2 separate regions of the Homo sapiens genome follow, and region 2 is linked to region 1. Evidence: fine-mapped expression QTL. Tissue or cell type: whole blood. Region 1 holds a variant in brackets; the other region holds the start of a gene. All regions are shown on one strand. Distances are between the middles of the regions.

Region 1 (5,258 bases):
ACCCCCATAACCCGTGTCCCCAGGCCCTGGCTGGAACGTGCTGTGCGGGGAAGATGGGCCCCACCTCTGCAGCCTCCTCTGCTTCCCCGTTGCTTTCCTGCCGCCCGCCAGGGCCTTGGGGCCTTCACACAGCTTCTCTACTTCCCGGAACCCAGATCATCCCCGGCGTCCGGCTCATAGCATTGAGGCAGGCCCTTTTCTCCCTTGTTCACCGGCGGCTGGCACAGTTCCTTGCATACAGCAGGCTCTGAGTAAATGCCTGGTGAATATTGGACTCCTTCACCTACAGGAGGTGCTGAGGCCTTTGGAGTGGCCAGGGAGCAGCTCTCCTGCCTCTGCCTCACCTGCCCTGTGCTCTGCCCCCGCCCGGAGGACTCTTGGTCCCAGCCTCACCGTCTGCATGGGCCTCCGCGGCCCCCAAACTCACCGGTTTTCAGGAAGGGCCTGCTACCAGGTAGCAGATCCCGAGGCTTCTGCTTCTGATGCCTGAGCTAATGTCAGCAATGTGGAAGAGGGTGTTACTTGCTTTCAACTTTCCCAACAACCAAAGTCGCAAGACGTGTAGCTGTCAGTGGCAGAGCAGGAGGGTAGGCAGTGGCTGGGAGCAGGTGCCAGGGCAGGGACGGCTCGGCCTTCAGATGCAGGCACTGGAGGCGGCACCCACCCGTTCCCTCCTCAGGCTGGTGGAGGAGCCTCCGCTGTCCCGGGACTTGGGGCAGCTCTCCCTTCTGGATTTCCTCCTCCCACATGTCCTGCTGGGGACACATGGCTTCCTATCTCCCCATGGCCCCGGAGGTCCAGCGCCTCCCTCCCCCATGCTCCAGGCTGGGGCCCCAGCTCCCTCCCGGTTCCTCTGTCTGTTCCGGGCAGCAGTCTGTGGCGCCAGGGCCATGCCCATGCCAGCTGCCGTAGCTGTGTCCCAGCTGTTTGCTCCAGGTTTATTTTGATGGTGTACCCCTTTATAAAAACTGTGGAATTTGCACACTGATACGTGCATATTTGTTTAAAAAGGATAGGTATGACCTGCGGCCAATAATGAACACACCCATTTATTTGTAAGATATAAGGACTTATAAACGTAAGTAGGGTTTCCACTGTATACCTAGGCCCCAGGGAGCTGTCAGGTGCCCTCCCTGGGCACCGTGCCCGGGCCCCAGTGAGTGTCCAGCCCCCTCCCTGCCTGCTGTGCCTGGGCCCTAGTGAGCTGTCCGGCGCCCTCCCTGCCTGCTGTGCCTGGGCCCTAGTGAGCTGTCCGGCGCCCTCCTGGGTGCTGTTGCTTGCTGTCTGTTGGGCATTCTGTCTGTGTGGTCTTCCTGAGGCTGTTACCAACTGTGGTGGCGGCAGGCCTGGGGCTCCTACTACGCCGCTGCCTGTGCTCTGTTGCTCACATGAAGGGGCCAGGGAAGCCTGTTGGCATATGGAGTCATGCCATGGCTGGCTGTGGCGGAGCTGTGGCTGTGCGCGTGGCGAGGACGATAGGGTTCTGCCCTTGTCCGTGGTCACCCTGCTCCTGCTCTCGCTTCTCTGAGGCCAGCCCCTCCTCTCTGATGTGTGCGGAGCGTGGGTCTTGGCCTGCCGGGGGCTCCTTCGTGGAATGCAGGGGGTGCACAGGTGTTGACTCTGCATGAATGGTTGTCTTTCCGCCTGGCTGTTTCCCTGCCTGACGCCCCTGTAAACATCCATTCCCAACACGCTTCCCAGAGGACGCTTGCCCTTGGAGTACTCCTAACAAAAGACTTCCCAGTGAAATCAGTTTCTGGCACCCCATGTGGTATAGCCTGACACGGCACCTGCTGCTCAGCTTGTCCATGGCTCTGAGGAGCCCTCAGGGGCCCCAGGCAGCTGGTGGGGGATGGGGTTGGGGGGTGGACAGCAAGGTGACCTGGCGGGCGCAGGGCAGCTGGTGGGGGTGGTGGGGGGTGGAAAGCAAGGTGACCCAGTAGGCACAGCGCAGCTGGTGGGGGGTTGGGGGAGGTAGGGGACAGCGAGGTGACCCGGCAGGCGCAGGGCAGCTGGTGGGGGGGTGGGGGAGGTGGGGGACAGCAAGGTGACCCGGCGGATGCAGGGAAGGCCCAGTCTTCATGTGCGGTTTCAATGTCTCGTTCCTGGGCTTTTCTGCATTAAGTGTGAGTTTCTAACATACCACGTTGAAACGTCTTGGATCTTGCCTGCTGAGCCACGTGGCTCTTCCTGAAGGACAAGGTCAGCGCCCCCCTCGCCACCACTTCATCCAGATCCCAGGAGCCCCTTCTGTCCTGTAGGCCAAGGCTCCACAGCACCACGTGGGTTATGGACGAGAAACCTGGAGTGTCCTGCTAGGAGAGAGGCTGTGGAATTCCCAGTCCCCCTCAGCTTTGGAGGTTTATACCAGAGAGACCGAGGCTTAGAGAGGAGCCCAGGGAGGCTCCTCCAGTGCCCAGGCCAGGCATCATCCAGCTGGCACAGGTGGCTTTAGCCCAGCCTCGGGGGGACACAAGCAGGGCCTGCAGGGTGTCTGGGAAGGGCTGGAGGGACCAGGCCCGGAACCTTGTCCTGCCTACCCAGGCTTTGGCCTGACATTGTCCTTGTTTGTGCTTTAAAATCCCCTATCCTGTTTGGTAGAGAAACATGCTCTCTTTAAACTCAGTTTCGAAGAAATCCAAATCTTTGAATAACCTTGATCTTGAAAGGAAAGGAAGTTAGCTGCAGGTGAAAATTGATGGTCATGCTCAAAGGCATGGTTCCCTGCCAAGGAAGCCTCTTGAGTCTTTCTACTAAAAATAGCTGCAGCATCCTGGTGGTGGTGTCTGAACCCTCTCTAGGCCCCTCCTGGAGACATTCAGAGATGTTAAAGGTGACAGCCAGCCTCACCTGGCCGTTCCGCACAGGTGTGTTTGCTCCTGGCCTGTGAGGCACAGGTGGGTGGGCCTGCTGAGGACTGAGCCGCCCTCGGGGGTACTGGGCTGCTCCCTCCGCAGCCTCTGCCCCTTCAGTTGTCCTTGGTGTCACGGCACACCCAAGAGCCTTGTAAGTTCCCTGCACCACAGTCTGGGTGGGTGCCTGGGTCCCTGTGTCCATGGTCCTGGGAGAGGTCCCTGGCCTCAGTCAGAAGGTGTGAAG[T/C]GTCTGGACTTTCTCCAGGCCGGTGATAGGCCACTGTTGGCTTGTGGTCTCCATGGTTCTGTGGGTGCTTCAACGGAGCTGCCAGAAAGGTCAAGCCACAGCCTGACACCAGCCAGAGTGGAGGCGGCCCAGGAACCCCCTGGCTCACCACCCTCAGCCTGGTGCTTCCGTCTGCCCGTGTGGGTGTGGACATGGGTCTGAGGCACTGGCTAGGGGATTCCCTGCTTCCAGCAGGCGCGTGAGGTTCCATCCTGGTCTCTGGTTTCTGGTCTGGCCTCATACCTGGCTTAGCTCTCGTAGGAGTGCAACAGGTGGAAGGGGCGGTGATGCCCGCAGATGCTGGGTGAGGTGCCCCGTGAACGTGTGGTCTGGTGCCCGCAGACGCTGGGTGAGGTGCCCCGTGAACGTGTGGTCTGGTGCCCGCAGACGCTGGGTGAGGTGCCCCATGAACGTGTGGTCTGGTGCCCGCAGACGCTGGGTGAGGTGCCCCGTGAACGTGTGGTCTGGTGCCCGCAGACGCTGGGTGAGGTGCCCCGTGAACGTGTGGTCTGGTGTCCGCAGACGCTGGGTGAGGTGCCCTGTGAACGTGTGGTCTGGTGCCCGCAGACGTTGGGTGAGGTTCCTTGTGAACGTGTGGTCTGGTGTCCGCAGATGTTGGGTGAGGTGCCCTGTGAACGTGTGGTCTGGTGCCTGCAGACGTTGGGTGAGGTGCCCTGTGAACGTGTGGTCTGGTGCCCGCAGATGGTGCCAGCAGATGTTGGATGAGGTGCCCTGTGAACCTGTGGTCTGGTGCCTGCAGACATTGGATGAGGTGCCCTGGGAATTACAGTGCTCGATAGTCCTCCTGGACACTGGTGCTGATGAAGCGAGTCTGGCCACCCACGCCAGGCAGTGCCCAGTGCCCCTTGGGTGGCTCCTGCCCTCCAGCAAGACATGGGGATGCTGCTGGACCCAGGTGTCTGTGAGGTCCAGGCACAGATCTTGCTTCTGCAGGAGGCCCCTGGGCGGACTAGGTGAGTCCTTCCTCCTACCGCCTCTTTGAAAATCTGTGTGTGTTTAAACTAAATTTCTTGAGTGCCATCAGAAGGCCCGTGAGCTGGTGAGCTGCCCCCGAGCCTTTTGCCACCCATGGTGGGCATGAGCCACCTACTGAGTCGGCTCCGAGTCAGCAGAGGCCATGGAGTGGGGGCCCCCACTGTGCAGGGAGAGGGTCTGACCCTGGGCGGGGCACCGGGAAGGGAGGTGGAGGCCTGAGGCCAGCCCTGCTGGAATTCCTCTCTTCTAGGGGGAGGAAGCCTAGGAGCTGGAATCAGAAAACCTGTTAGAACCTGAGCTCTGTCACTCTCTCACTTGTGCCTGGCGCCAGCTCCCTTTCCCTCTCTTTGCCTTTGCTTCCTCTCTGGAAGAATGAAGCATGCACGCCTCACCCCATCTGCACGGGGAGCCGATTCACAGATTACATGAGGGAATGCTTTGAAAATATTTTTAAATTGTAATGTTCAAATATATGTGTGAGGTAGTTCATCATCAACTCACTCAACAAACATATGGTTAGTTCTATTCTAAGGTGATGTGTGTTCCTAAAAGTCACCCTGCTACACAAAATCACATTAAAAATAAGATGGGACCCTGATGAAAATGGCAGCATGGTTGACGCGGTCAGTGGCTGGACACAGGCAAGTGTGACAATCGGCACAGCTCTTCGCCTCGAGAAGGCCTGGCGCTGGCTTGGGGAAGTGGGAGTGGTGGCTTGTGAGTCACTGTGGAGTGGGGAGAGCACCTGAAGCTGGAGGGGTGTGGCACAGGGGGCTCAGCCAGGCTCGGGAGGCTCCCATCACAGCTCCGTTCAGCTGAGTGCGGTTTTCTGCATTCGTCTTGGAGGAGGTTCTTCACAGAGGGGCGGAGGGGGACTTTTTGGCCATCACTCAACATCCTATGGGACAGCCCCTTCCTGGCTGACCCACCTGCCTGCCCTGTGCCAGGCCTTATGCAGTGTGGTTGATGCTTATTACCATTCATCAAATTTATTTCCTGACAAATCCTATGTTAAATACCTGGCATGGGACCTGCAGTGAGTGGGCATTCGATGTATAGCGGTCACTGCTGGCATTCGTCAGAGTAACTTCTCATTTCATTAACATCCCTCTAATCATCTCACT
Region 2 (5,000 bases), 180 kb before region 1:
TGACCTCAGGTGATCCACCCGTGTCAGCCTCCCAAAGTGCTGGGATTATAGGTGTGAGCCACTGGGACTGGCCTATTTTCTATTTTAGTTTATCAAAAAGAGCACTCAGAGATAAGAACCCTTTCACAGAGAGTGAGCCTTGGGTAGTGAAATGATACCAGATTTGGAATCAGAAGTCCTGATGCCTGGCACAGGTCTGCCCATGGCTGAGGATGACTCTAGGACAGTCACTTCCTGTCTGGGCCTCAGCTTCTCAGATGTTAAGGCCCGCCATCTCCACCATGTGTCTTTATAGGATGTATAGATAGAGAAGGCCTGTGTTTACCTATTTGCACATTAGCTCTTTGCCTTGGTCTTGACATTTTATTTTTATTTCATCACTTTGTTGCATGTACTGTATTTTTGTAAAAAGATTCAGGGTGTAAATAAATAACACATTCACCATTTCTTCCATAGATCCCAGCTCTCCTGTTGGCTTCGTGCTTGGGGTAGATCTTCTTCACATATTCCCCCTGGAAGGAGCAACTTTTCTGTGCCCTGCTGACGTGACTGACCCGAGAACCTCACAGAGAATCCTCGAGGTGCTTCCTGGCAGGAGAGCAGATGTGATTCTGAGCGACATGGCGCCCAATGCCACAGGGTTCCGGGACCTCGATCATGACAGGCTCATCAGCCTGTGCCTGACCCTTCTCAGCGTGACCCCAGACATCCTGCAACCTGGGGGGACATTCCTTTGTAAAACCTGGGCTGGAAGTCAAAGCCGTCGGTTACAGAGGAGACTGACAGAGGAATTCCAGAATGTAAGGATCATCAAACCTGAAGCCAGCAGGAAAGAGTCATCAGAAGTGTACTTCTTGGCCACACAGTACCACGGAAGGAAGGGCACTGTGAAGCAGTGAGGATTTCTTGTGCCATTTTCATAATGGTCATTAGCTCCTTTTAAGCTAGAAACGTAGCCTGAGCTCCTGAAGAGTTCCTGGGAGATTTGAGCTGATTTTGGAGATGGAGCAGGACAAGTGGGGAGTCTCTCTCTCTCTTTCTCTCTCTCTCTTTTTAACCAAAAAGAGATGACAAAACTAAGTTCAGGGGCCATGGAAAATGAAAAAGTCCGCTATATTGTGATTTGGGAAGAGAAAGTTATCAAGAGAAAGAGGTGAGGATGGAAGGATGGAGAAAAACAGACTGTGGGAAGGATCAGAAGGAATCCGCCGAGGCAGGGATGGGTGTGCCCATGTGTGCCTTGACGGGACTTCATCTTATAGACTGTTAAACTGTCACACACAAACAGGCTTTCCACCCCTGCTCTGAGAGCACCACGCACAGATTTCCAGTTCTTAGTGTGGCTGTTTAAAGTAGAAAATCTGGGGGCTGGGTGAGGCCACTCATGCCTGTAAACCCAGGGCTTTAGAAGGCTGAGGCTGGGGGATTGCTTGAAGTCAGGAGTTCAAGACCAACCTGGGCAACATAGCAACACCCCCCATGTCTACAAAAATGAAAAACCAAAAAGCAAACCAAAAGAAAAATCTGAAATTTCCATCTGGGGATTAACTTCTGTCTTTCTGGTGAACAATATAGCAATTCACGCATTCTTCAAGCAGCAAAAGTTCCCGGAACAATTAGGGAAGACGTATGGTCTGAATTTATCCAGGCAGTGGGTCTGCTTTGGTTTTTGCTGGAAATTTATATCAGTGTCTGGGCTCCCAAGAACATAAATGTAATTGCCAAAGCAAGCAGTGATGTGGTGTGTTTATTTTCTTTTACTCATCTAGGAACTTGACGCAGCTTTATATTTAATAAAATAATAGAGATTGCATTATTTTAAGGTACTTTCATGCTTTGAAGTTTTGTTTTTTTTAAACTGGCTTCCTCAAAGCCATTTCCTGGAGGTGTACTCATCCCTCAAGAAGAGTTTGTTGACTATGATTAAATTCCAAGGACCAGTGGGGGAAGTCTGGAAACCCAGGAATCTCCATCAGGAATCTGGGGCTCTGTCCAGCTCCCCGAAGGAAACTGCGGGTCAGATGTTTTGATTTTTTTTTTTCTTTGAGAAACAGAATCTCACTCTGTCACCCAGGCTGGAGTGCAGTGAAGTGATCTTGGCTCACTGTAAGCTCCACTTCCCGGGTTCACGCCATTCGGCCTCAGCCTCCCGAGTAGCTGGGACTACAGGCGCCCATCACCACGCCCGGCTATTTTTTTTTTTTTTTTTTGTATTTTCAGTAGAGACGGGGTTTCACCGTGTTAGCCAGGATGGTCTCGATCTCCTGACCTCGTGATCCGCCTGCCTCGGCCTCCCAAAGTGCTGGGATTACAGGCGTGAGCCACCGCGCCCGGCCGCCAGATGTTTTGACTTTTCATTTTATTTCTGGTTGCAGTCAGGTTGTTAAGTCCAGGGACTCTTGCCCTACTCCACCTCGTTCTCTTATTCCATTTCATTCCCGGGGCACACAACTTGGAAGTCTTTCTCTGAAAGAAGGAAAATTCATTGCAGACCCTTAGGAACAGCATCTTCTTAGAGGGAAGCCAGGGGCTGGGCAGAGACGGGAGGAGGAGAGGAAGAGAATATGGAAACGAGTAAGGCACACTCTTCTCAGGAAGGCTCCAATTTGAAGGATAGACAAAGGTTACCATAATAATGGTGGGGCCTGACCTCACCCCATTGGATGCTGTGCCCTGGCTTGCAGAGCACTGGGAAGGTAGCCTAGTAGCATAAATTGCATTTCTAGTGGGCCCAGAAAAAAGCAAAATAACGGATTGATTCAAGCTGATACTGAGTAGCAAAATTTTGGGAAGAGTCAACGGTGCAAGTTTGTCCGAGGAGGCTGCCGTGGGCGCGGCTATTCCACACATTACGGCGCGAGGCGAAAGCCTTAGTGGAAGCGCGTCCTGCGCAAAGCCGGGGGGCCCCCGACTGCGCCTTGGCTCAGCCTTCGGTTCCGAGTCCTTTCCGTGCGGAGTCTCCCAGGGGTGGCGGCTCCGGGTGCGGACGCGGAGTCCCCAGGATCAGCCGGTGCGCAGACTCGGTTCTTTACGGCCCGATTGCCACGCAGGTCTCGCGAGAGCGCAGGCGCAAGTGTCGCGATAAATGGGCGCCGGCGGAGCGGAGGGAGATCCGAGCGGCGGCGGCAAGCTGGCTGCGAGCGGCTGAGGTAAGCGGCCCGGCTCGCGCGGGCGGCGGGGTCCCGGGGTCCCGGGGGTCCCGGGAATGGCAAGGGAGGGGCCGAGGGCCCGGACCGGGTGTGCTCGCCAGGGTGGGGCACAACGACCCAGACCCCGTGCCTCAGGACCCCGCGCCCGCCCCGTCTCCCATGGGCGCGCTCTCCTCTCTGTGCTCTCCCCTCCTCTCCCCACTCCCCTGTCCCCACTCCCCCTTTGGGCTGTGCTGGGGACAGCGGGCCCCTCGCCTGGGTCTCCGCAGCCGTCCCTTGTGCCAGGGCGGGCGGCCGAGGGGCGCGTGCTCGTGGTCCCAGCCCCGGGGTCCCGCTGCCTACCGTGTGGGTCCCCGGGCTAGGGTGCCGGCGCGCCGAGGAAGGGGCCTGAGCTGGCGCCTGGTGGAGAAGTCGGGGCTGCAGGGGCTCTTGGCATCCTGGTGGCTCGCGCCGGTCCGCTCTCAGGAAGGGGGCGTGTGGGCCCGGTTTCCCCTCGGGGATGGCAAGGGCCACCCTGATCTCGTTTGGGCAATGGAGGAATTGGGCTGTGGAGCCTCCTTCCAGGCGGGCCTGCCTCTGCGGGGCTGGCAGCCTGGGGAGCTCAGGCCTCTGCTTGCACCAGGCCAAGGTTCTTGTTAAATGGAAACTCAGAAACTGTGCAGCTGCAGAAGTTCTACCTTTGGCTTTTAAACGCGCTTGGCTGTTCCCTAGTTGTGGCTGGTGGGCCGGCCTGCCATGAGCCCATAGTAAGCGCCGGTGTTGGGGGTGCAAAGTTCTTTACTGCGGTTTGTCTTCAGCCTTCCAAAGCCAGACAGACCCAAGTTCCAATCTCCGTTCTGTAACTTTTTGAAGCTTCGGTTTCATCATCTCTAGAATCTGTGTAAAAAGACCTAATTCACCACCCTGTTGAGACTGAGCTTACAAATATAGTGCTGGTCAACCTGCAGCCGTATTCCCATCATCTAGCGGTGGAAGACTTGAGGGATATTGGCCCCGTTCCCCACAACTTTGCAAGTAGATTTCACTGTCATGAGTTTACAGATGAGGAAACTGAAGTTCAAGAAGTCTCGGTGCTCGGAAATGTCAGATACCTTTCTTTCTGATACCTAGTTGAAAATAGTAGTAGTACTTATTAATGTCACTAGAAATAAACAATGAAAATGAGCACAGCTGTGATGATCATCATCTTTACTGTCACTGTTGCATGCCTCGTTTCTGATTCCCAGAGGCCAGATTTTTTTTTTAATTAATTATTATTATTTTTTGAAACGGAGTCTTGCTCTGGCACCCAGGCTGGAATGCAGTGGCGCGATCTCAGTTCACTGCAACCTCCATCTCCTGGGTTCAAGAAAATCTCCTGTCCCAGCCTCCGGAGTAGCTGGGATTACAGGTGCACGCCACCACATCTGGCTTTAGTAGAGATGGGGTTTCACCATGTTGGCCAGGCTGGTCTCGAACTCCTGACCTGTGGTGATCTGCCCATCTTGGCCTCACAAAGTGCTGGGATTACAGGCATGAGCAACAGTGCCTGGCTTATGTTTATTTATTTATTTATTCATTCATTTATTTATTTTGAGACACTGTCTCACCCCGTTACCCAGGCTGGAGTGCAGTGGTGCGGTCTCAGGTCACTGCAACCTCTGCCTCCCAGTTTCAAGCGATTCTTGTGCCACAGCCTCCTGAGTAGCTGGGATTACAGGCGCACACCACCACACCCGGCTAGTTTTTGTATTTTATTAGAGGTGGGGTTTTGCCATGTTGGCCATTCTGGTCTTGAACTCCGGACCTGCCTCCGCCTCCCGAAGTGCTGGGATTAGAGGCGTGAACCACCCTGCCTGGGCAAGAGGCCAG

Evidence for each region. PIP is the estimated chance that this variant, and not a neighbour inherited with it, causes the effect.
Region 2: MAD1L1 starts here. The variant in region 1 is fine-mapped to the expression of MAD1L1 in whole blood (INTERVAL, PIP above 0.99).

The regions. Positions count from the first base shown.
Region 1 is chr7:2,048,409-2,053,666 of GRCh38, reverse strand. The region is part of intron 12 of MAD1L1 (mitotic arrest deficient 1 like 1); the gene reads left to right. Among named protein-coding and RNA genes, the nearest start is that of SNORA114, 38 kb to the left of the region's middle. RefSeq lists an enhancer at 3,598-4,201. The variant T/C (reference allele first, on the strand shown) is at 3,100.
Region 2 is chr7:2,231,021-2,236,020 of GRCh38, reverse strand. MAD1L1 (mitotic arrest deficient 1 like 1) reads left to right here and starts at 3,076. Exons shown (of 19, transcript NM_001013836.2): 1 at 3,076-3,149. It overlaps MRM2 (mitochondrial rRNA methyltransferase 2), which reads left to right. Exons shown (of 3, transcript NM_013393.3): 3 at 457-1,826. The coding sequence ends at 899. RefSeq lists enhancers at 1,691-2,223, 2,958-3,087, 2,873-3,167 and silencers at 2,802-3,180, 3,158-3,577.